Linked DNA regions of Homo sapiens: regions 1, 2, 4 and 5 are each linked to region 3. The links come from fine-mapping of genetic effects on plasma protein levels. A gene starts in region 3. Each other region holds a variant in brackets. All regions are shown on one strand. Distances are between the middles of the regions.

Region 1 (6,145 bases), 120 kb before region 3:
CCAGCGGCCTTTCCGTGTTGCCCCACAGCCTGCAGGCATCGGGTGTGAGCGTGTCCTGGGGACTGCATTTCTGCAGGGTGCACCCTGCACTCCCTGCGCCTCACCTCTGGCTGCCACTTTGGGAATCACAGAAGGGAGGATGTTCTTGGACAGTGGCCTGGTCAGTATCCCTGGTAGCTCCCAGCTGGGTACACTCGTGCATGCATCCACCTGGAGCATAAGTGTCTGCTCTTTTGCCCAGGGGGCCCCAGAGCAGAGTGAAAATGTGGGGCCTCTGAAGACCTACCTTAGTCCGTTTGTGCTGCTACCAAGGAATAGTGAGGCTGGGTAATTCATCAAAGAAAAGAGGTTTACTGGACTCACAGTTCTGCAGGCTGTACAAGAAGCATGGTACCAGCATCTGCTTTGGGTAGAGGCCCCAGGAAGCCTCCACTCATGGTGAGAGGGGAAGGGGAGCAAGCGTGTTGCATGGCAGGGGAGGGAGCAAGAGAGAGGGAAGGGAGGTGTCAGGCTCTTTTAAACTGTCAGTTCTCCTGGGAATTCCTAGAGCAAGAACTCACCCATTACCTGGAGGGCAACACCAAGCCATTCACGAGGGACTCCCCGCACCCAGGACCCAAGCACCTCCCACCAGGCCCCACCTCCAACACTGAGGGTCAGATTTCAATCTGAGGCTTGGCAGGGCCAAACAAACCACAGAAAACTCTGTCCCAAGAAAGCCCCAAACATGACAATCTATCCATGCTGTCCTCAAGGAGCCCTGGGTGATCTCCATCCAATACAAAGAGCAGAGGCTGGAAACTGTGATGGTTCTCCCCGGAGCTCTCCTGGGAATAGTGGGTGTTTATAACATTGAGAAAATGATGCATTTCTTTTTCTGATAATGGAGTCCTGGGATAAGAATTGCTACATAAAGAAAAAGAAAAGCCACTAAGACCTGACTTCACTCTACCTGCCAGGCTTTGCTAGGAACGAAGATGGGCCCAGCTGAGGGCCACGTGCATGTCCTGTTTCCCTACTTGTGTACTTCCCAGGGGTTGCAGCCACGAGTTCACTGAGCTGTTTCTGGAGAGAGCCTGGGTGGGATCCTCCCAGCCCAGCCCCTGAGAACGTGGTGAAGCCGGTGCCCCTGCAAAGGCCGTGTGAGAAGGATCGGAGCCAGAAACATCGGAGGGACACAGTGTCCGTGGATTAGATCAGAGAGATGGATTAGATGTAGAGGAATATGGGGATCACGACCTGTGGGTCCGCGTCGGAGTCTGACTTCAGTTTGTAGGAACTGAAAATTGCTTCATAAGGGAGTAATAAAGATTTTTTTAAAAAACAACATTTTCAAAAGGACACAGCTTGAAGATGCTCCCACTAGTCAATGATGTGACAATTTGGGCATAAAAATAACAACTGTAATAGATTGAAACACATCAAATGTGCTGAAAATTCATGAGCTCATCACTAAGCTAAAGAAAGCCACACTGGTCCCCTGGGGTGGGCGCGGGGGCACCAACTCATCCTTCCGGAAACTGATAAATGCGAGGAAAAGCCAAGCACCCCTCTCCTTCCCCACAGGGACCGAGCCTTCGGGGGAAGCTTCTTTACACAAGTCCTCCAGCTCAGAAGCTCAGAGTGGAACCATGACAGCCGCCCTCCTTTGCAAACCACTGAGAGCTCCAGGAGGAAGGCTGCTGGGGTTTTATAACGACTGAGCGAGGGTGATGCCATCTCCCCCCATACAGAAAGGCAACAGGATGTCACATGCACCTCCCGAGGCAGTACAGTGGGAAGCGCCCACTCCACCCATGAAGGGCTCCTGCCTAAAAATCACGCCCCGCTCTCATCATGCCTCTAGGTCTAAGCACCTTACAGGAGGTCCAGGGGACAGAGAGACATTCAGACAGGAGATCCAGGGGACAGAGAGACGTTCAGATGACAGCACGGGTGCAGCCAGCCAGCTCCAGACTGCAGGACGCGCGAAGGGCAGATGACTCCATTCCTTCAACAACAACAAACGTCAAGAAAGAGAACTGGGGGAGGCTGTTGTCCTGGCCTCCTAGGGCAGCCAAAACAGATACCAGACTGGGCAGCTGAAACGGCAGACATTGCTTTCTTACAGTCTGTAGGCCGGGAAGTCCTGGATCTAGGTGCGCCTGGAGCAGTGCCTGGTACAGAGTCGGTTCTCAATAAGCATTATCCACAGTGGTCCAAGCACTGGCCATGTGGCTCTCTGTGTGGGTGGGGCTCTTCTGACCACCCTGCCCGTCTATCCCCTCTGCCTTCTGTGCCTGCTGGCTGCAGGCTGGTGCCATCTATGTAGTATAGCCTGGGGTATGATGGAACCCGTGAGGTTTGTGTTAATGGACCTGTGGTCTGAATTTAGATGAGCATCTCGGAATCCTGAGAGCTGGCCCTGCTCCCAGACCACCAGACTTCTTCTCCACTCCCAACTAGAATCCCCTCCTCAGCAGCCTGCCCCGCCCCCAGAGTCAGAGACCTTCCCTAGATGGGGGCGCAGCACCGCTCAGCCCTGAGGATTCATACTAGGATCAATCCAGACATGATGGGGGTTCCTTTGTGTGAGGCTGCAGCCAACCATCAGGGCTGCCAACGTCAGACTGGTCATCCCCAGAAAGGTGTGGGGGTACATAAGGAGCCTGGGCACTCTAGGCATGCAGCAAAGGGATCCAAGTGTACTGTGTGCACACACGTGTATATGTGTGTGCATGCACACCTGTGTGTGTGTGCACATGCCTGCACTGCATGAGTGTGCACGTGCATGTGTGTGCCTGTGCGCACGTGTCTGTGTGTGCATCTCCAGCCCTGCAATCCTTGCCTCCTCATTGTGCAGACACAAGGAGGTCAGCTCCCACATTGGGAATCAGCTTTGAGATTCTTCTGGTCCTTCTTGCACCATCTTTTCCTATGAAGGTCAGTTGGACAGATGTCTCAGCGATGCGTAGTACATGAGACAGCTGTGCCAAGCTCTTAGCCACAGCAGGTTTCCTTGTCCCACCCTCCTCCAGACACTCACGCTGGGTGTGTTTCAGCAGAGGTTTTGGCCACCTGGGGTGCGGGCCCCGAATGCTCGTTTCTGGAAGTTGCCCACCCCACACAAAGAGAATGGGGACAAGCGTATGTGGCGTTGCGGTATGACCTGCTCTAGAGACAGGTAGCATCCCTGTCTTCCCTCACAATGGTATCTTCCTCCACCTACACATAAACCTGCCTGGAGCAGGGCAGGTGGGGTACTAAGGCTGATTAATCCCAGGTACTGCAGGGTAGCAGGTTAATATACTCCAGGCAGATGGAAGCAAACTGGTTTGCAAATCAAGGTCAACTAATTCATTTATTGATCCAAGAGCTGCCTTTTACTTTCCCTTTTATCAAAGAGTCTTCTCTTCCTTTGTCCTAGAAAGTTAGCCCAGGGCCTCTCGGGAGGCCCAAACGGTGGATCCCA[C/T]TCTGCTGACTCTCCTGCCCCCTGCCCCTGGTGTTTGCTTCCCTGGCCTCTGGCCCTGGTGTCCTTGTCATTGTCTGGCTTAGGTTGCTCAAAGCCCTAAGGTGAGTTTGCTCATCTTTTCTGCAACGTGGAGCTCCTGCTTCCCTTGCACCTCCCTTCCCAGGGCTCCTTCCTGAAGTATCCTCCCTGGACCATGCTGCCCAGGCCCCATGGCGGTCACATCATATGGCCTGGGCCCACCTGGAGGAGCCACCAGCCACTTTCCACAGTGACCTCCAGCTAGTCCTATATACACGCAGGTGTTCACTCACTCACTCATTTATTCATGGGTGTTCTCATCTGACAAGACAGCACTGAGGGCCTCTTTTGCAAGAAATGAAGGATCTTCACTTGGCCAGAAGCTGAGCCCTGGAGTGGCTGAGGGAACTGGCTTGGGGCATACCGGCCACTCCTGTGTGGGACAGAACACTCAGCCCCTCTGTCCTGATGGTTTTCATCTTTAAATGGGGTTAATAGCAAAATAAAAAGTTATTATTTTCCCATTTTAGGGAATAAAAGAGTCAATAAGATAATGTACAAAATGCAGACAGAGATATTAGGATAGCCAAAGGAAAAGATAAAGCGGAAAATAAATGTTGGCAAAGATGCGAAGAAACTGGAACCTTTGGGCACTGCTGATGGGAGTATAAGATGGCAGCTGCTCAAATAATTAAAAATAGTTGCCATGTGATTTGGCAATTCTGCTTTTTTTTTTTTTTGAGATGGAGTTTCACTCTTGTCGCCCAGGCTGGAGTACAATGGTGCAATCTCAGCTCACTGCCACCTCCACCTCCTGGGTTCAGACAATTCTCCTGCCTCAGCCTCCCAAGTAGCTAGGATTACAGGCACCCGCCACCATGCCTGGCTACTCTTTGTATTTTTAGTAGAGACGGGGTTTTGTCATGTTGGCCAGGCTGGTCTCGAACTCCTGACCTCAGGTGATCTGCCTGCCTCAGCCTCCAAAGTGCTGGGATGACAGGCGTGAGTCACCGCACCTGGCTGGCAATCCTGCTTTTGAGCGTATACCCAAGATGATTGAAAGCAGGATGACAGGCGTGAGCCACCACACCCGGCTGGTAATCCTGCTTTTGAGCGTATACCAGAGAGGATTGAAAGCGGGTCCCAAAGAGATATTTGTACATGCACATTTCTAGCAGCAGGACCCACAGCAGCCAAAGGTAGAAGCAACCCCAGCGTCCATCAGTGCGCGACGGATAAACAGAATGTGGTCCATCCCTACAATGGACCGTGGGCCTTGGAAGGGAAGGGAATTCTGATGCATACACTTCGACGCGAACAGACTGTGAAGACACCATGGTAAACCAATCCAGACACAAAAGGACAAATACTGCGCGACTCCCATTCTGCGAGGTGCCCAGAGTAGGCAGATTCACAGACACAGAAAGTAGAGAAGTGGGTGCCAGGGGCTGGGGAGAGGGGAATGGGGTCTTGTGTTTGATGGGACAGAGTGTTGGTTCGGAAAGATGAAGACGTTCTGGAGGTGGGTGGTGGTGATGGCTGCACAGCGATGTGAGTGTGTTTGGTGCCACGGAGCTGTACACTTAAAATGGCGAAGATGGTAGATTTATGTCATGTGCATTTTATCACAATTTTACAAAAAGCCAACATAGAGCCCAAGGGAGGGCAGGTGCTCAGTAAGCGACCGTCTTTTGAGATTCTGAGTGGTTCTTGCCAGAAGAGGACACGGGGCTTGTGCCCCAGGGATCTTCCACGAGACATGCAGTGTGGAAATTCAGGTGCAGCGGAGAGGAGAGGCAGGGGACGGGGTGGTGGGTGGGATCAGTGGAGAGAGTGATGGGGTGGCGGGTGGGATCAGTGGAGAGGGCGATCGGGTGGTGGGTGGGGTCAGCGGAGAGGAGAGGCAGGGGATGGGGTGGCGGGTGGGATCAGTGGAGAGGAGAGGCAGGGGACGGAGTGGCGGCTGGGATCAGCGGAGAGGGGGACGGGGTGGTGGGTGGGGTCAGCAGAGGGGAGAGGCAGGGGACAGGGTGGCGGGTGGGGTCAGCGGAAAGGGCAATGGGGTGGTGGGTGGGGTCAGTGGAGGGGAGAGGCAGGGGATGGGGTGGCGGGTGGGGTCAGCGGAGAGGGGGATGGGGTAGTGGGTGGGGTCAGTGGAGAAGGGGACGAAGTGGCGGGTGGGGTCAGCGGAGAGGACAGGCAGGGGACAGGGTGGCTGGGGGTGTCAGCAAAGAGGAGAGGCAGGGGATGGTGTGGTGGGTGGGGTCAGGTACTTCTCTGGGTGACAGTGGAAAGCTCCCTCCCTCCTGGGCCTTGGTTTTCTCAATCTGCAAATGGGGATAATGAGGGTGGCCACCTAGTATGTGCTGAGATTCAGTGAGTCCATGGGACACAGCCTCACTCTCGGCCACTATGGGGGTGGAAACAGGAGGAAGGAGTATATTCATGCTGGGCAGGCCAGGTAAGGCTGCCGGGGAGAGCAGGGGTGTGCATATGTGGGCAGGGGGGCCTTCCCGGCCGCGGGAGAAGCACCTTATGCTGTTCTGCCAAGACCACTTCGAAAAATAAATTCCTGTTTACTGCCACCTTCATTTCACACACTTCATATGGGCCAAATAAAGATGCTAATGCGTTAACAACCCAATTCCCAAGTAGCCTATCCTTTTTTACAAGGAC
Region 2 (6,145 bases), 30 kb before region 3:
ATAATAATAATAATAATAATAAGGAACTCACTATGCAATAATTAAAAGACAGAGAACTCAATTTTTTAAAAAGGGGCAAAAGACTTGAATAGACATTTCTCCAAAGAAGATACACAACTGGCCAATAAGCACATGAAAAGATGCTCAGCTGCATTAGCCATCAGGGAAATGCAAATCAAAATCACAGTAAGATACCACTTCACATCCATTAGCATGGCTGTAGTCATGAAGACAGATAATAACAAGTGTTGGCAAGGATGTAGAGAAATTGGAACTTTCATATGCTGCTGGTGGGATGTAAAATCATGCAGTTGATTTGAAAACAGCCTGGCAGTTCATCAAAAGATTAATTATTCAGTTACCATATGACCCAGCAATTGCACCCCTAGGTATATGCTCACAAAAACTGGAAACATGTTCACATAAAAACTTGTACATGAATTTCATAGCAGCATTAGATCTTAACAGCCAAAAAGTAGAAACAACCCAAATGTCTACCAACTGACAAGTAATACCATGGAATAGTATTCAGCAACCATGGAGTATTATGCAGCAACAAAAAAGGATGAAGTACAATTGTGTGCTGCAACATGGAAGAGGCTTGAACACATTCTGCCAAGTGGAGAAGCCAGTCACTAAGAGCATCCGTTGTCTGATTCCATTTATACAAAATGTCCAGAATCAGCAAATTCATAGAGACAGACAGGAGATTGGTGCTGGCCTGGGGTCAGGTAAGACCTAGAGGAGGTGAGGGATCGGGGAATGACTGCTAATTAATACAGGCCTTCTTTGGGAAGGGACAATGAAAATGTTCTCACATTAGACTGTGCTGATGGTTGCACAGCTCGTGGAGACAGTTACTAAAAAGCATTGAGTTGTGTATTTTAAATGGGGAAATTCGATAGTAGGCAGATTACAGCTCAACAAAGCTGTTAAAACCATCACAATAACCAAGAAAGATTCTGTACCTACCCATGGTCCAGATCTCAACTGACCCGTGGCATACACGCATGAGCGTGCTGAGCAAAGCAAGCTGCGTCTGCAGGCGAGGACTTGCAGGGCATGAGCTGAGGCCAACCCCAGAGCACCGGCGGGGCTGGGGGGTGCGGCACAGATTTGCCCTCCACAAGGTGCACTCTCGTCCTTTTCTGTTTGAGATACAATTTAACACAATATGATGCACAGATCTTAATTTAGTAAATTTTAACAATTGTAGGCACCCACGTAACTACCACCCTAAAACTCCAAATTATGGCATATTGCCATCACCCTAGAAAGTTCCCTGGAGCACACAACCAGCCAGAGTTTTGGGAAGTCAGGAGTGAGAGAAAGGAGGCGGACTCCCAAGTGGGGCCATGACTGCAGCCTATAGGATGGGTTTGCAGAGGGTGAGACAGAGATCAGTTAGCAAAAGGGACCTTTGTCCTCCCTGAAAGCTGATGGAAACTGAAGGAAAGAAACCCTTCTGCTGAAGGAAATGCAGCAGGGCCCACATTCCCAAAGCCCCTGGGATGATGATCTTTTGGTCATTCCTTGTCCTCGCTCTTGGGGAAAACGTCAGCTACCATTTCCGCCCTGAGTCTGCCAAGGGGAGAAGGAAGAGAGAGGAGAGCATTCCTGAATTCAGAGTGCGTTGACAACAGTTTCAGAAAGGTGGATGGATGGGCGTATCCTTCATGACCAGGGACCACGGATGGGTGGAGGTGATGCAGACCTTGCCAACTGCCTCAGCCCGTCCTTGCCCAGTATGCACCCTTACACCCTGGCCATCAGCCAGCTCCACGCGCCCAGGGAGGCGGATGCCCCACACACAGCGTCTTGAGGGCACAGCCGGTGCATCTTCCAGGGCCATTTGGAGAAATAGGAGTTTTGTTGTTGCTGTTGTTTTCTAACACAGTTTGGTCTGGGGCCTCCAAAAGGCCAGCTATAGACACTATAAATTGATGGGTTTCTAGGGAAACCTGTCAGAACAGAAGATGAGTTTCAGCCACTGTGGCAGTGACGGGGCCAGAGGCAGAAATGGCCTAGAGGTACCATATGCTCTCGTAATGTACTTTGCTTCCTGCTATTTATGAGCGGAGGACGCTCTGAGTGCATCGTTCTCAATCAAGGGCATGACCAGCAATCACTCTGTGTGACTCAGCTGCCAGTGGGCCATGGGGTTGACCCTGGAGAAACCTCAGGGGCCTGGGTAGGCCTCCAGCCAGAGTCGGAACCTGGCCTCAGTTCCTCCCGCCTGCACACCCCTCTACAAGTATGGCCTAAAGGTCACGAAATATTTAGCTCTTCCCCTTCGCCTCTAGGACAAGAAGGGAGCCAGAGATCCAAGGGATGAGAGCCCAGCTTCAGAAATCAGACAGACAGGTGTGGTCTTAGCTCTTCCGGCAGGATGTGACTTTCAGCTAGGTGCCCCAGGGGATCTGTCCCCACCCACATTGCAGTGGAGAGGTGGCACTCTACTCCAGAGGCGGGGCTCAGATGCTGGACCAAATTGAGGACCAGCTATAACAGGGATGGGGTGGAAGCACCTTTCCATAAGACACGCCCACCAGTGTGAGTTGACCGCTGCCATGGCAACACCTGGGCGTTACCTCCTCTTTCCATGGCAATAACCCCAGGATCTAGAAATTTCTGCATAAACCACCCCTTAATCTGCTTGTAATTAAAAGTAGATATAGATGTGACTGCACAACTGCTCTGAGCTGCTCCTCTCAGCGCACTGCCTGTGGGGTAGTCCTGCTCTGTAGGGACAGTCACGGAGCTGCAACACTGCCTCGTCAATAAAGCCCCACCCCACCAGGGGCTTGCCCTTGAAGTCTCTCCTGGGTGAAGTAAAGAATCCTTGGGGGCCCAGCCCCACTTTGGGGCTCCCTGCTCTGCATCAGCGTGATGGGCCTAATGGTTGACTCAAGGTAGGGAGTACCCAAGTCAATGCATGCTGGGGACTCGGCAG[T/G]GGGGCTGCCCTGAGCGGAGGAGGAATATCCTGACAGACTGGCTGTCATTCAGGGGGGAGTGGGGTTGTGGTTGGCGCAGGAGCCCAGCTGAGGACAGGCATGAGTCAGGGTGGCAGTGGATGCTGTCATGTTCTGGGACCCCAGGCAGGGCACAGTGTAGCTGTGCCACGAGGTACACAGGAAAGGACGAGAGGCCTCCAAAACGTTCACAGTTGTTATTTCTGGGCAGTTCTTCATGTTCTTTAAATTTTCTGCATTTCTCCAAACTCTTTACCCAGCACACAGGGCCTTTACAATCAGAAATCTAAGAGAGTCACTGCGCTCAAAGCCACGCTGGGGCATGGCACCACGGACATGGCACACTGTTCGGCCTGTCATATGCCTCACATACGAGCTCACGTTTCTCGAGGTTTGCCCACCCACCCAGCCCCGTTCTGGGCTCTTGCTCAGGCTACGGCATTGATCTCATTACCCCCCAGTAGGCGAGGAAGGGGCACAGGTTGGGAAAGTTGTGCCAGGTCATATGGTTGGTAACTTGTGCAGGGAAGCCTCTCACCTGAACTGTGTTTCTCCTCTACTCTCACACCTCAATAATCATCAACACAGGAGAAGACTTCTGTGATGCTCCCCCGCCAAGGCTGCCCCTACACACACCAGCCGCAAGTCTGGGCCCCTGGAACTTCTGACTGGCCGCCTTCAGGTTGGCATTCCCATGACCCCCTCTTTCCAATTCTATTAATTTGCTGGAGCAGCTCGCAGAGCTCAGGCAAACACATTTATAGATTAATGAAAAAGAATATTGCAGATGAAGAGATGCGTAGACCGAAGTGGGAGGAAGGGACGCAGAGCTCCCACATCCTTGCTGGGCGCGCCACACTCCAGGAACCGCACTGAACCGAGTCCTCTTGGGATTTTATGGAAGCTTCATGATGTCAGCATTCCTTCCCCCATGGCATAGGATGGGACCCTCTCATGGGAGGGTCTTAAGACCCACAATCCGAAAGGCAGGAGAAAGTTAGGGTGCCGCCTTGGGGCAGGTGAAAGGAGGGCAGGAGAAGGCAGAGGCTGCCCATGAGGCTCAACACCCCCAACATTCTAACGCAAATGGGAACAAGTGCTATGGGAGTTATAAGCCAGGAGCCGCAGACGAAAACCCGTATCTATCCTAACAGCACATAACTATACAAAATCTATTTCCTGGCCACATAGTCACTTTTTAACGTAACCTTGGTTAACAGCATGGTGTTCAGTGTTTACAGAACACCTGGGCCTGGAGTGAGTGTGCCGGTCAGGTTCACATAGATATAAAGGATATGAAGGGAACCCCGGACACTGCTCCAAAAAGCAGACCCAGGGATGCCTGTGGGTGGCCGGTGATGGGCCCCTCTCACCCCTGGGGAGCTGGGCTGGTTGCAACCTGTCCGCCGGCACTGCCAGGCCAGGGTCACGGCTGAGGATACCCAGGGCAGGTGCAGAGGTGAGGAGGTCCCAGGTGAGCACCCTGGGAGTGGGGTGAGCTCTGCCGCGGCTTTCCTGGGGAGGGCTGTGGGAGGCGCAGGTGTGTCAGCAACGACCTGAGGCTGTGCTGTGGCCCCATGGCTTGCTGTCCATGGCCTTCATCTGCCTCTCGCCTCCTCTGGAAATGAGAGTGACTGTCCCGGCCACCCTGACCCCGCTGACCGAGAGCCCAGACGAAGGGGTAGTGGAGGGGGACCTGCTTTTCTGTCCAGAAGGATTTGGTTTGAGCCTTAGTTTCTCATGCAGCTGCAGGTGACAAGGGCCGGCAGCTGTGCCTGGCAGGGCAGGGCCCTTCTATCCAATTCTGAGCTGAATCTTCCAAGCCAATGATCTCACAGACGTGGTGTCAGTGTTACAACAGCCCGCGAGGCTGCCGAGCCACTGAGAAACTAGGGTCACCTGCAAGTGAGCAGGTGGGCAGCACCAGGCAGTGTGGGGGCAAGGATGCCTGCAGGGGCACCTCCTGCAGGGATGAGCCTTCTAGCACATTCTAAGGGAACCAACGCCCTCTGCCCTGCTGGTGCTGTCCCCAGAGACTTTGATAGCTGGGTTTTGGGTGGGTCTTGGCTTCTCAATGTAAGAGGCCAGTGCGGGGTCCTGACGTGCAGCTGGGCTGGGGCGGTGTTCAGAGCACCGGGCTCCTGTCCTCTCTCCTCACCCGTCATGCAGGGACCTCCAGCCTTCCTTCCCCAGGCTGCTGGGGTGGGGAGGGGTGTGGAAGCTAGAGTCTGTGCAGCAAACATGGGTGGTCGACACTGCTGTCTGTCAGGCGGAGCAGCCCTAGAGCGGCACAGCCGGTCCGCTCCCCCGCATCCTTGGAGACAGATGGCCAGAGCCTCTGCTGGGTGGGGGAGAATTCCGCACCCTCCTGGCTGGAGGCGAGGCCGTGGGCCGCCGGCTCTGGGAGCTCCAGGCTCTGCCTCCCACACCCGCTGCTCTGGACACGCAGCATCGCTCTGCGGGGAGAGAATGGTGGCGGGCCTGGCTGGCTCTCCCTGGCCCCCCAGGGACCTAGTGGGAACAAGCACTGCAGGACCAGGAGAGAAAGTGGGTGAGGAAGCGGGGGGGGGGGTGTGGGGGTGAGCGAGTGTGAGTGTGCAAGCAGGTGTACCCGGCTATGCATGAGCACAGTGGCTGTGTGCAGGGGTGTGCCTGTGTCTGTGTGTGTGTCTGGTGTGAATGTGTCTTTGCCTGTGTCTGTGTGAATGTGTCTTTGTGTGTGTGTCTGGGGTGAATGTATCTGTGTCTGTCTGAAGTGAATGGTCTGTGTGTGTATCTGGTGTAAATGTATCTTTGTGTGTGTCTGGTGTGAATGTGTCTGTGTGTGTTACTGGTGTGAATGTGTGTGTGTCTGGTGTGAATGGTCTGTGTGTGTCTGGTGTGAATGTGTGTGTGTCTGGTGTGAATGGTCTCTGTCTAAAGTGAATGGTCTGTGTGTGTGTATCTGGTGTAAATGTCTCTTTGTGTGTGTCTGGTGTGAATGTGTCTGTGTGTCTGGTGTGAATGTGTGTGTGTCTGGTGTGAATAGTCTGTATGTCTGGTGTGAATGGTCTGTGTGTGTCTGGTGTGAATGTGTGTGTGTCTGGTGTGAATGGTCTTTGTGTGTGTCTGGTGTGAATGTGTATGTGTCTGGTGTGAATGGTTTGTGTCTGTGTCTGGTGTGAATGTGTCTT
Region 3 (6,102 bases):
CTAGGGGTTGCTCAACCTCCCAGAAGCCTGAGCTGCAACAGGGAAGTGAACCAGCAGGCATTCAACATCCCCAAACCTCCCAGAGACAGCTGGGCTATAGCTTGTGGTGGGAGCAATACAGGACGATGGTGACCCTTATGTGTTCTATTTATTTTACTTAAATAGTTTATTTAAGCTTGCTCTTTTAAGTGAAATTTAACACCCATTCACCAGAGTGCATAAACTAAACCTGCATCACCCAATGAAGCCAAAACCCATCTCCAGCCCCCCGTGCCCCTTCCAGGCCTAAGGGCTCCCCCTCCTAAGGGAGCGGTCGTCTCACTGGCCCCTGCTAAGGGAGCGGTCATCTCACTGGCATGGTCTGGGCCTTTTTCTCCACGTTGCCACCGAGCATGCATTCCTTCACACTGCTGTTCAGTTTTGCCCACTTTCAAACTCTGTACAGATGCAAATGAACAGTTCGCATGCCTTAGTGCTGGCGCCCTGGATGCTCCGTGTGCTTGCGGATTTCAACAAAGCTTTTGCGTGAAGCTGGAATCCGATCATTTTATGGGTCTACAGGATGCTCCAGTATGAACGAACCTCAGCTGACGGCCCCATTCTGCTGCGGATGGACGTTTGGGTTGTTTCCGGCGTGGGGCTGGACATTTTCACACGTGTCTTCTTTCCAGCTGGGCACACCTCTCTGTTGAGTAGAACTGAGCTGAACATCGCTGGTTATGGAATATGCTGGTCGTAGGGAATTGTTGGGAATACTGCCAGTTTTCCGAAGTGCTTGTACCAAGGTTTCTGACACTTCTTCACCAAAACCTTGCAGAGTTGGCTGTTTAGAAAAATTTTAGTGTCTGCAGTCATCTCATGAGATTTAAGTTTTCATTTCTTGGATTAGTTATGAAGTTGAGCATGTTTTCATACTTCCATCATCTATTAAATATTATCTTTTATAAGCGTTTGTTGAAGTCACTTTCCCACTTTCTACAACATCGTTGATTTACAGAAACCCTTTATTCTGGATACAAGCCTTTTGTCACTTCTGTGTGTTGAAACCTCTCTTCCCTCACCCTGGCTCGTCTTTTCCCTCCCACGGTGGTGTATTTTGAAAAAGAAATAATACTATTTTCATGATCAATTTTTCCACTTGTCCTTTATGGTTTGTGGTTTTCCATCTTATTTAAAATAACTGCAAGGCTATTGGAGATCTTATAATATGATCTAAAACTGCTGTTTTCCCTCTCACATTTGGGTCTACCCTTCTCCTGATGTGGATTTTTTTTTCATCTGATAAAAGTCAAGTGTAACTTCTTGTTTTTCCATATGACTCTCCAGTAGTTTGTGCCACTCATTGAAAGTTTATTCTTTCACTATTGCTCTTTAGAGCCACCATGTCATAAATCTAGGGTCCGTATGTGCCTGGATTTGCTTCTGCACTCCCTACTCACTTCCCTAGGTTTGCTGTGTACGCCTAAGCCAGCCCCACACTGTCTCCATCACTATCGCTTGATAATGACTGCTGGTGTCACTTCAAGCAACTCACCCTTGTTTTTTCTTGCTCAAGAATAGCATGGCTATCAGCCTCTTGCCTTTATATAAATTTTATTTATTTATTTATTTATTTGTTTATTTATTTAGACAGAGTTTCACTCTGTTGCCCAGGCTGGAGTGCAGTGGTGCAATCTCGGCTCACTGCAACCTCCACCTCCCGGGTTCAAGCAATTCTCCCACCTCAGCCTCCTGAGTAGCTGGGACTACAGGCATGTACCACCACACCCTGCTAAATATATATATTATATATTTTTTGAGATGGAATCTCACTCTGTCGTCCAGGCTGGAGTACAGTGGCTCGATCTTGGCTCACTGCAACCTCCGCCTCCTGGGTTCAAGCAATTCTCCTGTCTCAGCCTCCTAAGTAGCTGGGTTTACAGGTGCCCACCATCATGCCTAGCTAATTTTTGTATTTTTAGTAGAGACAGGGTTTTACCATGTTGGCCAGGCTGGTCTTGAATTCCTGACCTCAAGTAATCTACCTGTCTCAGCCTCCTAAAGTGATGGGATTACAGGTGTGAGCCACTGCACCCGGCCCTTTATATAAATTTTAAATTCACCATGTCAATTGTCACAGAAAATGGTAGTTTAATTGATAATACAGTGGATATTTAGATAAATTAAGAGAAGATGAATGTTTTTCCTATATTTGGTATTCTAATCCACACATATAGAATATCCTTCTAATTATTTTAATCTTCTTTTAGGTCTTTCTGTTCCTATTTGATAGTTTTGTACACAGAAGACCAGCATGGATGTTGTTAGACTTATTCACAGTTATTTGAATTTGGTGTTGCTGATGCAAATTTTTTAAATTTCATTTTTAAATTCTTTGAGGCTAGTTTTTAGAAGCACAATTGATTTTTGCTAAACTTTTTATTCTGCTAGTTTATCTGTAGAAACTCTAGAATTTTCTACATCCTCAATCATGTCTTCTGAAAATAACAACTTTGTGTCTGCCTTTCCAATCTTTTTATGGTTTTGTTCTCTTGCCTACTGCACTGGACAGTGACATGCAATACAATGTTGACCACAGTGGTGATGACAAGCATCCTTATTTGTTCTCAGTCTCTGAGGATGGTTTTCCATTTTTCCTGTTAATTATGTTGTAACTTCTGTATCCACAGCTTCCAAAGACCTCTTTCTATATTCTGTTGTTTCTGTTGGTCCTTATACACATTGTCTTTTATTCCCATGAGCCTGGTTATCGTTGATTGTGTTTTAACATTTCATTTGAAAAAAATAAAACACTTTGCAGAAATAATGACCTGGGATGATGTCATTCTCCTTCAGAGAAGATTTTTGTTTCTTTCAGCAAGGAGCCTGGGGGCATGAGCAATAATTCCAGGAGTTGAGATTCCTTTCCTGGGACACTTAGATGTCTCAAAACCAGTTTGCAGCCCTTGTGAATGTTGGTTGTTGCTCACTCATCCTATTGCTAGGGTGCAGCCCTTCTGAAAGCCAACCCCAAACCCATACCTTTGGCAGGCCGTAGGCCCCAGTCTTTGACCTTCAGCTCTGCAAGATGGTGAAATCACTGCCCAACTTCTCACCTCTCTTTTGGAGATTGGCAAATCCCTGTGCAAAAAGAGGTCCCCACTACTAGTTTCACTTCTCTAAGATTTCTGTGGCTCCTGAGAGCTTGGCAAAGTAATCCTTTACTACATAGCTAGCTTGACGGTGCCTTCGAGCAAATCTCTTTTTAAAGGTTTTGTCTGTTTGTCCTTAATAGGATGCCCCCAAATACCTAAACTGCCATTGCCAGGAATCAAATGACTTTTGTTGATCCAATGTTAAGATATTTTAACTTGCCAGAATCTTGCATTCTTTCATACTCTTGGGAACATTGACTTGATATCTGAAGGTGGTGTTGACTTCTCACCTGAAATAAACCTATTGATGTTGCAAGGAAGAGGAGGTCCCCTCACACCCAGGGGGCAGCTGGCAAATGGAATTGAGGGGCACAGACCTGCTGGCTTTCTCCCTGTTCTGACCCAATCCCAGGTGAGTGCTGCTCCTGAATTGGATCCTCTCCAAGAAAGGAGGCCGCACCACTGACACCCAGACCTCTCCCGCCTGGGCCAGTAGCTCAGGGACACTAAGCGGTGTCTGAGGCAATGAAGCCTCCTGCCGTTGTCTCTCAACAGGCTGGAGCCAACACACACAAACACACACAGTCGAGAGTCGTTGTGGTGCCCAGAGAGCCTGGACACAAGGTCCTGTGTCTCCTGGATCCCCCACCCCTGGGCCGCCCCTCCACTTCTCTCCCACCTGGGGAGCCCTTGAGTTTGGAAACCCAGTCTACACACGCTGGCTCAGAGAAGTTGCAAACCACAAAACAACACCTCTCCCTGCTCCTTAGTCCTGCTACCATCTGACTCTCGTTAGTGACTATTTCTATACGTTCTAAAAATCCCGCACAAAGTGTCCACAGCGTGGCCTGGCTAAGCATGATTCACAGCACGAGATGCGGAGTAGGAACATGGCCTCAGGGATTTGGGGGAACAAGAGGCATCCCCACCTTCAGGTGAAATGAGCAATCCCAGTGATCTACAAGGCGTTAGACAGAATTGAGTCCAATGCCTGGCTCTTACTAGTGGAGTGACTTCAATTTCTCCAGCTGTAACTTTCAAATAATTTACTCCACCGAATGGGGCTGGTGCAAGATGATATGATGGAAATAGTATTTGGGACATAACAAGTGCTCAACATTTTTTTCCTCTCCATCCATGATAAGTGCCTGATGACGGACAAACCCTGAATTTTCTGGGAACAGATGAGGCAAGGAAGCGTCTTCAGCAAAACCTTCCTTATCCCCCAAGGTTAAGGTCAAGGTTTCCGAGTATTGCTTGGGGACAGCTGGGGAATGGAAAGGGGGTGTGGGGGCTGTGTTCTCCTTAAGCCACAAGCAAAGCCGATGCTTTCCAGCAGAGGAGTCTCAGGAGCTCTCTGGACTGGGAGCAGGGTGTCTTTGCTGGGGGAAGAGAGCCCAATGGGGTGGGCATCTTGCTGGAGCCTAGTGGAAGGAAACATCCTTTGAGATGACCTCATACCTCCTGTTGGTGCAACTAAGCAGCCCATAGGAAGTGGGTGTCCCCCAGGGAGTTGAGAAACTGTGGCACAAGGCGAGAGCTGGTTTCCTCTGCCCTGTTAGAGCTGGGGGACTCTTCAGAGTCAAAGGCCAGAGAGCATGGAGCTGAGTGGAGCCACCATGGCCCGGGGGCTCGCTGTCCTGCTAGTCTTGTTCCTGCATATCAAGAACCTGCCTGCCCAGGCTGCGGACACATGTCCAGGTGAGACAGACCTGGGTTTTCTGGTCCCTAAAAGCTGGTAACAACCCCACTCACTGACACTCGGGTGTCCCAGGCAAAACCTTTTATGCACATCTTCCTGTGAAGATGCCCAACAGATCTGTTTTATCCTCAGGCAAGGACATGGAGGCTCAGGGCAGCTGAGGCATTGCCCAGGGTCATGGAGGGATAGGGGAGGGATGTCACCAGGTCTGTCTGCCTCGAAAGCCCAGGATTTGCCCATTGGAGCTTCATAGGTGGGTCTGGAATCTGTCACTGAGAAGGAAGAAAATACTGTTGACTTTATCTTCTTACGGGCTTACCAGGGAGGCACTCTAAGACCCTCTAATACGGTGGCTGCCACACGGACTTGGGGGGTTTGTTAAAAAGGCAGATTTCTGGCTCTCCTCCAAGAGAGTCGGAATCAGTTGATAGGGACAAGGGTTTGAACGGTGGTAAGGTGTTTCCCTCACTGATTCAGGAGCAGGTGGTTCTGTGACGCTCAGCAAGAGACTGCTCCTAAGGACGGCCTGGTGCCCCTGGCTGATAACATATTTATGAAGGAAACATAAATAGTAAATTACAGCCTGCTCTAGTGGAAGGAGGACTGGAAACACAGAAAGGAAATACCCCAAAAATGGCAGTGCCATGTCTCCGGTGAGAGCACTGCTCCGTTCCATGGTCTCTAAGAGCGCCCTTAGCAGGGCGTGTAGATTTTGTAATGAACAAAATGAAAAATATTTTTTCAAAGAAGTAAACAACTTTGGTTTGGCTGCAGCTGTGCCACACCTGGCTCTGTGTCCTTGGACCCCACACTGCCCCTCTCCAGAGGACCTAGAAAGCCCCTTCCAGCCCAGTAATTCTACAACCACATTCCCAAGGTCTGGGAGGGAAAATGCTTTGTCAGCCCCAATTCCCCAAGTTTCTTAGAAATATTGATTGTCATTAGTTATTGAAAGTGCCCGCTGTTTATTAAGCTCTTTCTAAATGCCATAAATTACAATAAGAGATTTAAAATGCACATTCTTTAACCAAATCCTGGCCGCAACCTTGTTATTATCCCCGCTTGGCAGCCCAGGGCACAAAGCTCAGAGGAGTTAAGTTACTTGCTGCAGGACACACAGCACTGAGGAGATGGGGCTCCCCTAGGTCGGGGTGGCCTCCAAAGCCAGAGCTCTGCCCCCCATCACATCTCCGCCTCACCAGTGCCTGAGGGGTGAGGACAGACCAAGGCCCCAGCAGAGCAGAAAACCTCACTTCCCAGCCACTG
Region 4 (6,145 bases), 46 kb before region 3:
TGCAGAGATGAGGCCCTAGGGCTGCCCTCAGGAAGTGTCTTTGTCCTGGCTCCTGGATATGCCTAAAGTCTATGCTGCCGGACCCAGGGACTGTTTTTGGAACCGAGCAACTTGCCTTCTGGTGCTGGAGCTGCCTTGGCAACCTTGCGATGTGGTGGGGTGAGCTCGGGTCGGGAGACTCACACAGAGGGTGGACTTCCCCTCTGCTGCTCCTCGGCTGTGTGACCTTGAGCAGCTCACTGCGCCTCTCTGAGCCATGCTGGGAGATGTCAGTGAGACACTGAGACCTGGACATTGGACACCCAGTCCCCTTCCTGGCGTAGAGATGGGCTGCTGAAATGCTCCGGTCCCTCCACCTTCCTAGACAGGGTCAGGAAATGCTGCACTGTCCTGGCCAGACACATTCCAGGTCCTGGTTGTCCCTAGGGTGGCAGCATTTAAACTGCACCCAAGGGACCAGAGTTCCCTCTGGTTCGCTGGAGGCATCACTGGCCGCAGCCCACCTGGACTCGTCTTCATTTCCTTTCATTACATGAAGCCTGTGTTGGATTTGCTGCAATTGACAAGTGAAAGAGAATAGGTGCTCAGCCCACTTTCAGCGCCATTGGGTGGGCGGAATTTGCAGCAATTAATTCCAGGGAAGCAGCTTCAGGACAGGGCCCCAAGGGCTCTGCGCAAGGCCAGGCAGCTGCTCCGGAGCTGGGATGGAGGATGGTCCCTCCTGCCACGGGAACAGTCAGGCCGCCCACATCCTGCTGAAATCTTGAAATCTGAGCTCTGTTCTACCCCCATAGTCACTGAGTGCTTGTCCATTAAGTAGCACACAATTGCTTTTTGGAAGCAGACCTCGAGGTGGAATAAGATAGCATGTATATGATAGAGGATTGTCCCAATTATATCTCTTCTTCTTCTTCTTCTTTTTTTTTTTTTTTAAGGAAAGGGGACTAGAATGTAGCACTATGGAAAATTAAAATCTTGAGAAAGCAGCATTAGAATAAAATGAGTCTGCTTATGGGCAGCCCTTCCTCCCCCTGATTAATCAGACAGGAGGCTGCTGTGAGCAGGCTGGTTCTGCTGAGGCTGCGCTCTGGGGCTGCAGTGAGAGAGTCCCATGTCCACGCGGGCAGACGCAGCCGCAGATGCCCGAGGAGCCTGGCCTCCTCAGCTGCCCGTTTCCTGCTCTGAGCTGACAGCAACTGCCCACGCCCAGGCCACTGCCTGCTGCTACTGCCTACTGCAGACGCAGACGCACTCCCTCTAAACTGAAGAAGTTCTTTCTCAGGGTTCCTTCTCATGGTCTGAGAAGGCAGCAGTAATAGCGCAGATAGGGGGTCACCTCGGGGAGCCTTATTCTCTCCACCAGGACGAGCTGAGGGTGCACAGGAAGGTCGACTGCCCCTTGGGGGGCAAGTGGCACAGGCACTGCTGAGGGGCACCCGGACGTATCTCCTAAAGCTGAGGACACACGAAGCCCACAGATCAATTGTGAAGCATGAATGTGAAACTGCATGTCTACAGCGGCCTGCGAAGGCACCCCTGTCCGGCGATCCCACGCGGGGCGCTGCCGTGGGACATTCTCCCTCTTTTCATCCGTGCAGCGGCTCTGAGGGGGGCATGGGGCTTGTCCCTGGGTCACCGTTGAGGGACTTGAGGGATGTGGATGGCCCAGTGCCCCCAAGGAGGCTGCGTAATTGGGCAGCATAGCTAGAGGCTTTTCTCAGGATGGCTGCTCTCAGCGTGAGTTGCAAACCCCTTGGGCAACCCCTCTTGCCCCAGTCTGGGCTGGGAGGCACTGGGGGACTCATTTATTGCTTTCACATCAGGTAAGCCCAGCTGCAAAGCTGTTCCCGAGACCAGAACTGCATGTGGCATCTGCAGAGCCCAGAGTCCACCAGCAGCCTTGAAGCACAGAGGAGGGAACTGGCCCGAACATTCAAGAAAGGAGGGCCCAGGGCCACCAGAGGGTAGCAACCAGCCCAGACTTCTGGTGCCACTGCCCACCAATCCCGGCAAGGCCATTGTCCCCCGCCAGGGCTGTGGCTGCTAAATGCAGGGCAGGCATGGGTGAGCTGCAGGCTCCAGGTGGCTGGGATCCCCCTCCTCCTCCTCTCTCCATCCCCCAGAACAAGGTCACAGACTGGACCGTGCTGGCCACCATGGCACACAGGGCCTTCAGGCATCACCCGTGAGTTCCCTTTGTCATGGGAGAAATGGGGGCTTGGAAAAGTGGTTCTTAAATAGGCAGCGGCCTCAGGCTATTAGACACCTGCTCGGCCCACAGGCGCATCAAGACCAACTCCCTAGCGGCCTTTTCAGGACGACCTTGATATCAGCAGGCAGGAGTTCCAGCGAAGGGGAGGACACGCCCACCTGGCTCTGTTAGGCTTGCTGTCTCACCCTCGGTGCATTGGCACCTGGTCTTCTTACCAAGCAACAAACCCATTTTTACCCTCTTTGACTCCAGGCAAACAACCCTGCGTCCAGACAGTTAGGAGGCGAGAAAGGCAAGGGCGGCTCCACCCTGGCATCTCAGCTACCTCCCTAGAGGCTGCGTCAGGAACTGGTCACCATGAGTCTTCCTGCTCATTGTGGAGCCTTTCAAGTTATCAGTGAGAGTCCTTGGATCAGCTCGATTACTTTAGAAACTTTATTTCCCCAGTTTTAAAAGCCATGCGTGTTCATCGTGGAAGGCTGCACAGTAAAGAGAAGCCTGCAGGCCTTCCTTCTTGGCGCATTTGCTGAGAATTTGCTAAGGGCTCTGCTGTGCCCCATGCTGGAGATGCCTGTCCCTGTGGGTTTGGGCCTTGGAGAGGCAATAGTTACAATGACTCACCAAGGCATGTGTCCTTGCAAAGGGATGGCTGAAGGGCTGGGCACGACAGGGAGGCAGGCCTGGTAGCACCAGATCCAGGGGTTTCTCAGATTCTGCTCTGAGTGGACACAGAGGGCAAGCATGGGGGAAGGCTGTGGCTGGCCAGCGTCACCGCCCATCACCTCACAAAGATGGTGTGTTTGTCATCTGCTACCATGCAGCAAATTAACCCAAAACATAGAAGTTTCAACAAGAAACATCTCTTATCTCAGGGTCTGTGGGTCAGGAATTGGGGTGCTTCTGCCCCAGGGTCTCTCATGAAGTTGCAGTCAAGTTGTTGGCCAGGGCAGTATTCATCAGAACGCTCAACTGGGGTGGGAGGAGCTGCTTCCAAGCTGGTGCATTTGGCCATGGGCAGAGGGCTTCAGTCCACACCATGTGGGCCCCTGGTAGGGCTGTTCCTGGGTCTCTGCAATGTGACAACTGGCTTCCCCAAGAGCCAGTGATGCA[C/A]GAGAGAAAGCAGGAAGAGGCTGCAATGCCAGGCTTGACCAACTCTGAGGCCACACTGTAACCCATCCGGACACCAGGTCCAGCCCACGTTCAAGGGGAAATGAGTTGAACTCCACCTCTTGAAGTGAGGATTACCAAAGAAATGGTAGCCATATCTTAGAATTTCTGTGAAAATCTTTCCATATTTCTCTATGCTGGCTTATGCCTGCAGATATAAATATTTAATTTTTATAAATTGGATGATAGTATACAACCCATGTTGAATCCTGATCTTTTCATTTAAACATGTCAAGGAGAAGGTCTTGCATCTGGAAATGTGGATATGTGTCATTAGTTTTGATATTTTAGGCATTATATTTCAAATAACATGATGCCCTAATAAATGTTTCTTGAGTAAGTGAATAATGGACAAATGCCCGGTGACACCATTAAATGTCTTTAACCCCTCACCTACAGGGAGTTCCAGTTGGATTCAATGCTCAATTATTTTAGAATTTAGATAAATATTGCATGAGAGATGGCTGGTGTTCCAACCACGCTCTCTTCCCCCGGTGCACATGTTTCTCAGGCGGTCCTGTGTGTACTGGAGTCTGGTCAATGGGAGGTGAGAGGAAGTGCTGTGTTCTGCTTCTGGTCAGCCATAAAACCCCTCATGTGTGGTCCTCACGCTCTCTCCCTCTCTGTCTGCTGAACCAGAGAAGGGTGGTACCATGGAGCAGGCAGGACCTGGATCACAGCATCGCTCTGTGGGTTTCTATGTTGGGAGAAACTGCCGAGGTTTGGGGCTGTCTCTTACAGCAGTAAACACACCAGATCTTTGTGCCTTTGCCTAGGGATCTGAGACATTCTCCCAGGGAACTGGGGGCTGGTTCAAAGGACACATGTATCTTCAGCGTGGATACCTGCCATCAGACTGCCCTCCACACGTGGCCGTTTCTCCTCCCAAGGGCTCTGTGGCGTGGCCTCCAGCTCCTGCAGGCATTCCACAAGCAAAGCAAGAATGTGGACCCCAAAATGTGCTCCCCAGAGCTCAGGTCTTGATGCCACCCCCTCCTTTCCTGGACTGGAAACTGCCTAATATGGGCCAACTGGGTCATCTCAGCTCTCAGTTCTGAAGACATGACTGTCCAAGGAGCTACTCTGTAGTCCCAGAGCGGTGGGCACCCGGAGGCTGCACTGCACATGGGGCCAGGGCTAACTCCTCCCCATCTGGGGCACAGCCACACCCCGTCCTACTGCCCTGTTGCTCCATCCCTCCTCCTCCACTGGGCACTGGGCTCCTGGCAGGCAGCTTCTGTCTTGGCCCAGCTTAGCACACAGTAGGCACCGGAGACATGCACCATGTAAACGAATCAAAACAAGGATGAGTGAGTGAGAGCGTGGCTGACATGCATGTTAGGAGCTGAACCAAGCTGCCCCTCGCCCCAAATTCACATGTTGAAGTCCTCACCCCAGCAGCTTGGAGTCTGTGATCGTATTTGGAGGTAGGATTTTCAGAGAGGTAACTAAGTTAAAATGGGGCCATTAGGGTGGACCTTAATCCAATAGGACTGGTGTCCTTAGGAGAAGGGGTGGTAAAGACATGGACACCCACAGAGAGAGAAGATGGCACCCACAGGCCAGGGAGAGGGGTCTCAGAAGGAACCAGCCCTGCCAGCCCCTTGATCTCAGACTTCCAGCCTCCAGAACCGGGGACAATACATTTCTGGTGTTTAATCCTTCGTCAAACATAACATGCTTCATACAGCCGCTGAGCAGACTCGTATAGGGGGCTCGGTGGCTCGTGACTGGACTAGGGAGGTCTGAGGCCTCAAAGCCAGCAGAGGCCGGGGCCTCTGGGGGTTCCAGCAAGTTCCTGTGATGAGGGTCCGGACACCCGCCCACGACCTCGGCCCCACTCGCTGCTGCGTGGGCTGCCCCTGGCCGCGGTGCCAGCTTCCACCTGCGATCCCCATTTTGTCTCTCAAACCCTGCGGATCTGCCCTCATTAGCTGCTCCGAATCCCATTTTTAGTCCTTTTATTTCCACACCTCTGAAACGTCAGCATCTTTCACTTCATTGCCGGTATGGAGCCCTGGAAGGCCAATTATTCCCCATTTGGAACAAGTTCTCTTCAGCACGAAGAACTTCACATAAAAAGTTATTCATTTTATTTCAGGCAGCTTGGAGAGAAGTCATGCCCTGTGATGAGTTGGAGAGAAAAAAAGGCGCAAGCAACTGCAAGGTCCGTGTGTGTGAACGCCGCATGGATTTGCCTCCAAAGAACACGTGAGCGACCCGCGCTGCGAGCAGTGCCTGGCTCCCGGGGCCCCGCGTGCTGGAGCCGCTGCGGTCACGCCTGGTGCTGTGAGCAGTGCCTGGCTCCTGGGGCCTCGCGTGCTGGAGCCGCTGCCCTCACACCTGGAGTTAAAGACACTGGGGCTGAATTCGGGCTCAGCCACTGTCTGCATGACCAAGGGTAAGTTACTTAACCTCTCTTTGCCTTGGGTTCCCCATCTGTGCCTGTGGCTGAGACCATTTCCATCTCAGATGCATAAAGTGATGAGCACAGTGTCGAGCCCCACAGTCAGCCAACAGCACCGTCATGATCATCCCTGTCTGGGTTGTTCCCTCAGTCAGCCCATGAGGCAGGTGGAAGAGATCTTACTAATTACGCAGAGGAGGAAAGGGGAGCTCAACAATGTTAAGGAGCGGCCGGGCGCGGTGACTCATGGCTGTAATCCCAGCACTTAGGGAGGCCGAGGTGGGTGGCTCACTTGAGGTCAGGGGTTCGAGAACAGCCTGGCCAACATGGCAAAACTCTCTCTCTACTAAAAATGCAAA
Region 5 (6,145 bases), 38 kb before region 3:
CCAAGTGCACCTGCAAAGCAGACAGGCTGCCACAGTGCTGGGCGGAGAAAGGTCACCCTGCCCTTGCCTGTTCAGCATGGCTCTGCAGAAAGGGCCTAATGACTAATTAAAACCCTGCTGCCCGGGTTGGAATACTAATCTTTACAGCTTCATGGGCCTTCGTGATGCATCTCCCTGCAAACTCTGAAGAGCGAGGAGATGAGGCTGGAGGGGACGGTGTTGGTTTCCATCGGCTTCTTGTTTGTAGCCGGGGAGCGGCCCCTGTCTTCCACTTCTCAAAGTCGCTGTGAAGAAGTGAGAGTTGCTCCTTCCTGCTCTCTTTTTTCAGGGCCACAGGCAGAATGGAGCCTCCTGGAGGGTCAGGGCCTCTTTCTTCCAATTCGCTTCTCGCTTCTGCCCAAGGAAACCTCTTCAGCTGGAAGATCCCAGCTGGGACCTGGCTTGGAGGGAGATGCATTCCCTCTGAAAGGTCTGGCAGGTGGTGGGCTGTGCCCAGCTGTGCCGACCAGTGGCCCTGGGGTGGGAATGGCTTTGCCATCTGCCTTAAATTCGCCCACCTCTGGCCACCCAGCTGGCACTCAGGTCCCGCCCAAGCTAGCGTTGCGGGATGTACGTCCCTGGGGATCTAGAGAAGTGACTTTCACAGGCTACCTGTGTGTAGCGGAGTGGTGAACAGTGAAGTCTGAGACCCTCAAGGGTTGGCCTGGCTGAGAGCAAGAGGAGCTGACTGGCCTTCGACCCAGCAGGCCCCAGCATCTGAATGGGTCTCCTCCCTCAGCCCCATCCAGCTGAGCACAGAGCCCTGCACCTGCAGCCTTCATGCCGTCCTCCTCCTGCCTGCAGGGTGTGTCTGTGGCTTGCTTATTCCTGAGACCTCTTCCTTCAGGCCCATCCATGGGTCCTTGGAGAGCACCTTGCTGCCCCCATCGAAGGAGGCCCCTCCTGGCAGTGATGCTCTGGAGCCACCTCGCTTTGTTTTGTCCAGGGCCTTGGTTGCAATTTGAAATGGACCCACATAGTATGTGTTCAAGGGTGGGTTGTCCTGTCCCCTGGGGTGGCAGCCCCACCACGGCAGAGCCCCACGTGGCTTTTTCACAGTTTGAGAAGTCAGCCCCAGCGCGCATTTGCTTAATGAGTGGATGAAGGTGTGGATGGACAGATTCCTGCCACCTCTGTGGATACCAAAGAGGATGCTGGTGCCTCATAGGGGTTGGGGCTGTGGCCAGGACTGGCAGCCGCCACAACCAAGGTGGCGTGGGGCGCCTCCACCTGGAGCCAGGTCTTCCTCAGGGATGTCCCATCTGACACCCACCAGGGGAAAACCTTCCAGAGATGGTCTTGGGAGGATGGGCCAGAAGGACGGGGTGGCTGTGACTCAGACCCTCTACTGACCCAACTCCAAGACCCCCCAGGGCACCTGAGGCCAGGCCACACTCTACCCAGAGGCCCCAGGGCAGCACACAGGCTCCTGAAGTCCCACTACCTGGGCCCCGAGGCACCTGCCTTCTCTCCAGGATGATTATGAACCACATTGAAATGGTCAACAATGACCCAAAATGGTAGCAGGTTTCAGACGTTCAGATCCTTTGGGAATGAAGATTTGGGTCACCCCACCAAACAAGGAAGCACGACCCTCCGAGGGCCTTGCTAGGGCACAGGGACTATGGACAGTCACGAGGGAGGGTAGTTATGGGACAGCTATGGCCGCATGACCAGGTAGAGACATGAGGTGTAACAGTCACAAGTTCTTATTCCGTATTTAGCTGTGAATCTGTCAGTAGATGTGAACCACACTTCTCCTCCCTCTTCCATTTCTCTGCATCCAACATACGTTGCATTGATAGTAGTGACCTTCTCTCTCAGCAGGCTGGGCGGCCTCTAAGATGGGCCCATGACCCCTCCTCTCTGTATCTATGGCCCTGTGTAATCCCCTCCCCTGGAATGTGGGCTGGACATAGTACCTCAATCCAAAGAATGGACAGAATACAACAAAAGCGAAGGGTTATCACTTCCAAGATTAGAGGTTAAGTCACAAAAAGACCATGACTTCCATCTTGCATGCAGTATCTTGCTTTCTCTCTCTTTTGCAGCTCTTTTTCTGAAAGAAGCAGGCTGCCACATCATGAGTAGCCCCACAGAGTGGCCTGCATGGCAGAAAGCTGCTGACACAAACCAACAGCCATGCACGCAAGCGTGGAAGATGATACCATCCCAGTCCAGTCTTCAGATGAGATCACTGCCTTGGCTGGAAGCTTCACTGAGGCCTAGCGAGGAACTGTGAGCCACAGGCAGCCAGTTTAGCGATGCCCAGACTCTTGTCCACAGAAGAGGTGAGATCATGCACATTTATTGTTTTAGGCCTCTGGATTTTGGGGTGATTTTTTATAGAGCAATAGATAACAAATATACTTGGCGTTTAGGCCACAGGATATCAGAAAGGGTGTGAGACTTAGCTGTAGGAGGAAGAGATGTCACCCAGGGGTGGAGGAAGGGGTTTTGTATCCTCTTCTGGGCAGAGTGTGTTTTCAGTTGTTCAGAGGATCATGCTTCATGCTAGGCATAAGCAAGGATTTTGCTGTTGTCTTTATTCAGGCATTAAGTGTGTCTAAGTGAGTCATATATGGTGCCAGGTTGACAAGGGGCAGACCGTGGTGGGTTTCTATTGCATCAGCCCACCCAAGCAGAACTGTACTGCCCAGAATGCCCTTTCCTACATAGCCCCTGGTCAGTTTGGCCCCAAGAGGCATGGTGCAGAATTGGGAAGGCGGGAAGCAGTGGCCATGTTCTTTTTGTGCCCAGAAGGTTGGAGCTGTTGCAGCCCTGCATGCTGTCACCTGTGGGCAGGCACCTTGCCAGTGTGCAGCAGGGGACCCACAGCAGCCCTGTTCCTGCCATAGTCTTCCATGAGTTCTTTAACTCCCAGGACAGGTGTGACATTTAGCACCTGATGAAGGGCCCCATCTTCTCCTGTGGGATCCCAGAATTAAAGCTGGGGACAGCAACAGGGAGACTGCCTTGCAGAGGACATCCGACCCGGCAGTTTCCAGGGCGCTCCTGCTGCCCAACCTGACATGCAGCTCTCCTGCCCCACCACCTGCTCTTCTGACCCTAGGCTGCCACACCAGGCACAGAAGCAAGAGCCTTCTTTGACTTATCAAACATGGGCAAATCCTACAATAAATCCCTCAGCCACATTTCCTGGTGGTTCTGCCTCTCTGATCAAAGCCTAATACAAACCTAATCCCCTTATAGTGAAGCCTTGTTCCCCTGCTCCCAAAGGATAAGAAAGAAGCTCTTTGTGGTTTGCAGCAGTTGCCAGGAGAATAGCAGCAATGTCTGTAGCCAGCCAGACTTTCCAGTGAGGGGATCACACAGGGACACCCACGAAACTCACAGACATTGGCGGTGCCGTTTC[G/A]GAAGCAGAGACCAAGCCCCTGTGCCCAGAGGGTTCTGTGCCCCGAGGGCTGGGCTCGGTGGCTGGAGCACCCATGTGTGCACATGCACAAACACACACAGACACACACAGAAATACACACAGACACAAATGCACACAGACACACATGACACAGACACAAACACACAGAGAAATACAGACACAAATGCACACAAACATGACATAGACACAGACACACACAGTAATACACGCAGACATAAATGCACACAGACACACAGAAATACACACAGACACAAATGCACACAGACACAAATGCACACAGACACACATTCACACAGACACAAACACACACAGAAATACACACAGACACAAATGCACACAAACATGACACAGACACACACAGAAAGACACACAGACACACATGCACACAGACACACAGAAATACACACAAATACACACAGAGATACACACAGACACGCAGAAATACACATACAAACAGAGATACACATGCAGACACACACAGAAACACACACAGACACACATGCACACGGACACCGAAATACACACAGAGATACACACACAGATATACACAGACACATACAGAGAGATACACACACACAAAGAGATGCAGACACAGATACACACACAGACACATACACAGAAATAGACACAGACACACACAGGGACATAGACACACACATACACACACACATCGACACATACATATGCACACAAATACACAGAAACACATGCACACACATGAATACACATGGACATACATACCTAGAAACCCAGAGACACACGTGCACAGAGACACACACATACACACACACATCGACACATACATATGCACACAAATACACAGAAACACATGCACACACGTGAATACACATGGACATACATACCTAGAAACCCAGAGACACACGTGCACAGAGACACACACATACACACAACACACGTGAACAGATAAACACACAGCTAGAGACACACACAGATGGAAAGGCTACTGCAGCCCCATTTAAAATTTTTAACACCATGCCAGGAAAAATGGCACCTCCAGCTGCATCTTCTAGACTCTTTCTTGTTCATTCTCTGAAGTTGTTGGAGGGGAAAAGGAGCTCAGGAAGTATTATTCCACCTTGCCATGGACCAGTGGTGAGGGTGAGCCCCACCGTGGTGAAGGACTTCCCAGTGTGGTACAGTTTAAAAGGAGGTCCAAGTCGGGGGGCAGCGTGAAGACCACGTGCTGGAGGACATGCCTCCTGTAGGTGTGATGCCCCCGAAGTGGGCAGCCCCTCTCTTGCCAGTCTGGGCTGCCCTTTTACTGCCTCCTCACCTCCTGCCAGGGTGATGGCACAGATGTCCCTGGCCCAGGCCACAATCTCCTCCAGGTAGCTCCTTCCACAGCAAAGGCCAAGGGGAGGAGAGATGCTACCATGGCACAGAAGCACCCGGTAGCCCCTGGCTGACTGGCCAAGCTGGGACAAGCTGAGCCAGAGGGACAGGAGAGCCTGCCATTCTGCAATGTGGACTGCATCAGAGGAGGGGGCGCAGAGCTAGAGGTTTCCGGAGCCCTCCAGAGTGTAGATAGGAGTCACTGCAGGGCCCACAGCTGTCAGCTGAGCCCTGCCTTCCAAGAAAGTCTCACTTATCACTGCTCCAGGATCAAACTCATTCATAATTTGTGTGTGCACCTGCATTATTGATGCTCCATCTGAAAACCCTGTCCTGGATAGGGTATTATGAATCTAGAGACTGGTTAAAGACCAGACTGATGGAGAAAATACATATTTGTGCATTAATCATCACCTTCCTCTGACATGGTAGCTCCCACAGTGACAGAAACTTGGGTTTGGAGCCTCTATTGTCTGGCTGTAGCACCTGCCATGCCAGCCCCAGGCCCAAGGTCACATAGTGGGAGACAAGGGTGAGCATGGATTCTCCTTACTTCCTTACTCTGCCAGCTGCCTTCCCTCTGCTCTGAACTGCGGGACCTGAACTCAGACTCCAGGGCACTCTAAGCCATGGCTGCATGGTGGGGTCCCTGGTAATGCAAGTCTTCTGGACACACTCACTCAGCTGGGGAGAAGTTTGCCAAGTTCTGGCTCAGATGACTAGGAGAGATGGCTTGGCCTCCTCAAGCCCAGGCCCTGGCAGGGCAACCAAATGCATCTCCCTGAACCCACCAGGCTTAGGTGCCAGAGGACAGGATTTCTATGTCTTCTTCATTGTTTTTCCCCAGTGCCAAGTGCATAATAGGAGCTCAATAAATATTTATTGAATAAATAATCTTTGCATGAATTGTTATAAAATCTCTGCCAGAGTCAGTGCTACTCGCAGACTGTGTTTCTCTCTCCTGACACTTGGTGGTTGTTAAATCAGAAATCGTCCCCTATCTTCATCCATCCAGCCGTCCACCCAATGGCACACTTCTAAACGATTTGTGACAGCTACAGGTACAAACATAGGTGACATCTGAATACATTTTTGGGCATTTGCATAGGGGTTGTTCACTCCTAAGGTCTCACCCTAACGACTGTGTTGGAGGTTATTGTGCCACGGGGCCTTAGGCACAAAGGGCTCGGGTTTGGTGCTGAGATTCCAACTTTAGCTGATGCATTGACAGTAGCATAGGAAGCAGCTGGTGGGTTTTATTTGCAGCCTGGAGGGGTCAGCACAGAGGAGGGTGGAAGGCGAGCATGAAGGAACAAGAGAAAGCAAAGGACACTGGGGTTCATGGCTGTTCACGGG

Alleles and levels. Alleles are on the strand shown, and positions count from the first base shown. The strength of an association depends on the size of the effect and on how common the allele is.
For the plasma level of the protein whose gene starts at base 4,692 in region 3, C is the high allele of the variant in region 1 and T is the other (weak association).
In carriers of allele T in region 2, the plasma level of the protein whose gene starts at base 4,692 in region 3 tends to be higher than with G alone (weak association).
For the plasma level of the protein whose gene starts at base 4,692 in region 3, allele A in region 4 goes with a higher level than allele C (strong association).
For the plasma level of the protein whose gene starts at base 4,692 in region 3, allele G in region 5 goes with a higher level than allele A (weak association).

Evidence for each region. PIP is the chance, under the fine-mapping model, that this variant and not a neighbour inherited with it causes the effect. The UK Biobank Pharma Proteomics Project read protein levels with antibody pairs (Olink). The fine-mapping took linkage between variants from a reference panel, not from the people measured, so its PIPs are less certain.
Region 1: its variant is fine-mapped to the plasma level of the FCN1 protein (UK Biobank, PIP above 0.99).
Region 2: its variant is fine-mapped to the plasma level of the FCN1 protein (UK Biobank, PIP 0.95).
Region 4: its variant is fine-mapped to the plasma level of the FCN1 protein (UK Biobank, PIP 0.99).
Region 5: its variant is fine-mapped to the plasma level of the FCN1 protein (UK Biobank, PIP above 0.99).

The regions. Positions count from the first base shown.
Region 1 is chr9:135,033,479-135,039,623 of GRCh38, reverse strand. No RefSeq gene overlaps it. Among named protein-coding and RNA genes, the nearest start is that of OLFM1, 51 kb to the left of the region's middle. The variant C/T (reference allele first, on the strand shown) is at 3,452.
Region 2 is chr9:134,946,599-134,952,743 of GRCh38, reverse strand. It overlaps LOC105376313 (a long non-coding RNA gene), which reads right to left. Exons shown (of 3, transcript XR_930421.3): 3 at 3,717-5,428. Among named protein-coding and RNA genes, the nearest start is that of FCN1, 32 kb to the right of the region's middle. The variant T/G (reference allele first, on the strand shown) is at 2,954.
Region 3 is chr9:134,916,502-134,922,603 of GRCh38, reverse strand. FCN1 (ficolin 1) reads left to right here and starts at 4,692. Exons shown (of 9, transcript NM_002003.5): 1 at 4,692-4,835. The coding sequence starts at 4,733.
Region 4 is chr9:134,962,778-134,968,922 of GRCh38, reverse strand. No RefSeq gene overlaps it. Among named protein-coding and RNA genes, the nearest start is that of FCN1, 48 kb to the right of the region's middle. The variant C/A (reference allele first, on the strand shown) is at 3,323.
Region 5 is chr9:134,954,656-134,960,800 of GRCh38, reverse strand. No RefSeq gene overlaps it. Among named protein-coding and RNA genes, the nearest start is that of FCN1, 40 kb to the right of the region's middle. The variant G/A (reference allele first, on the strand shown) is at 3,416.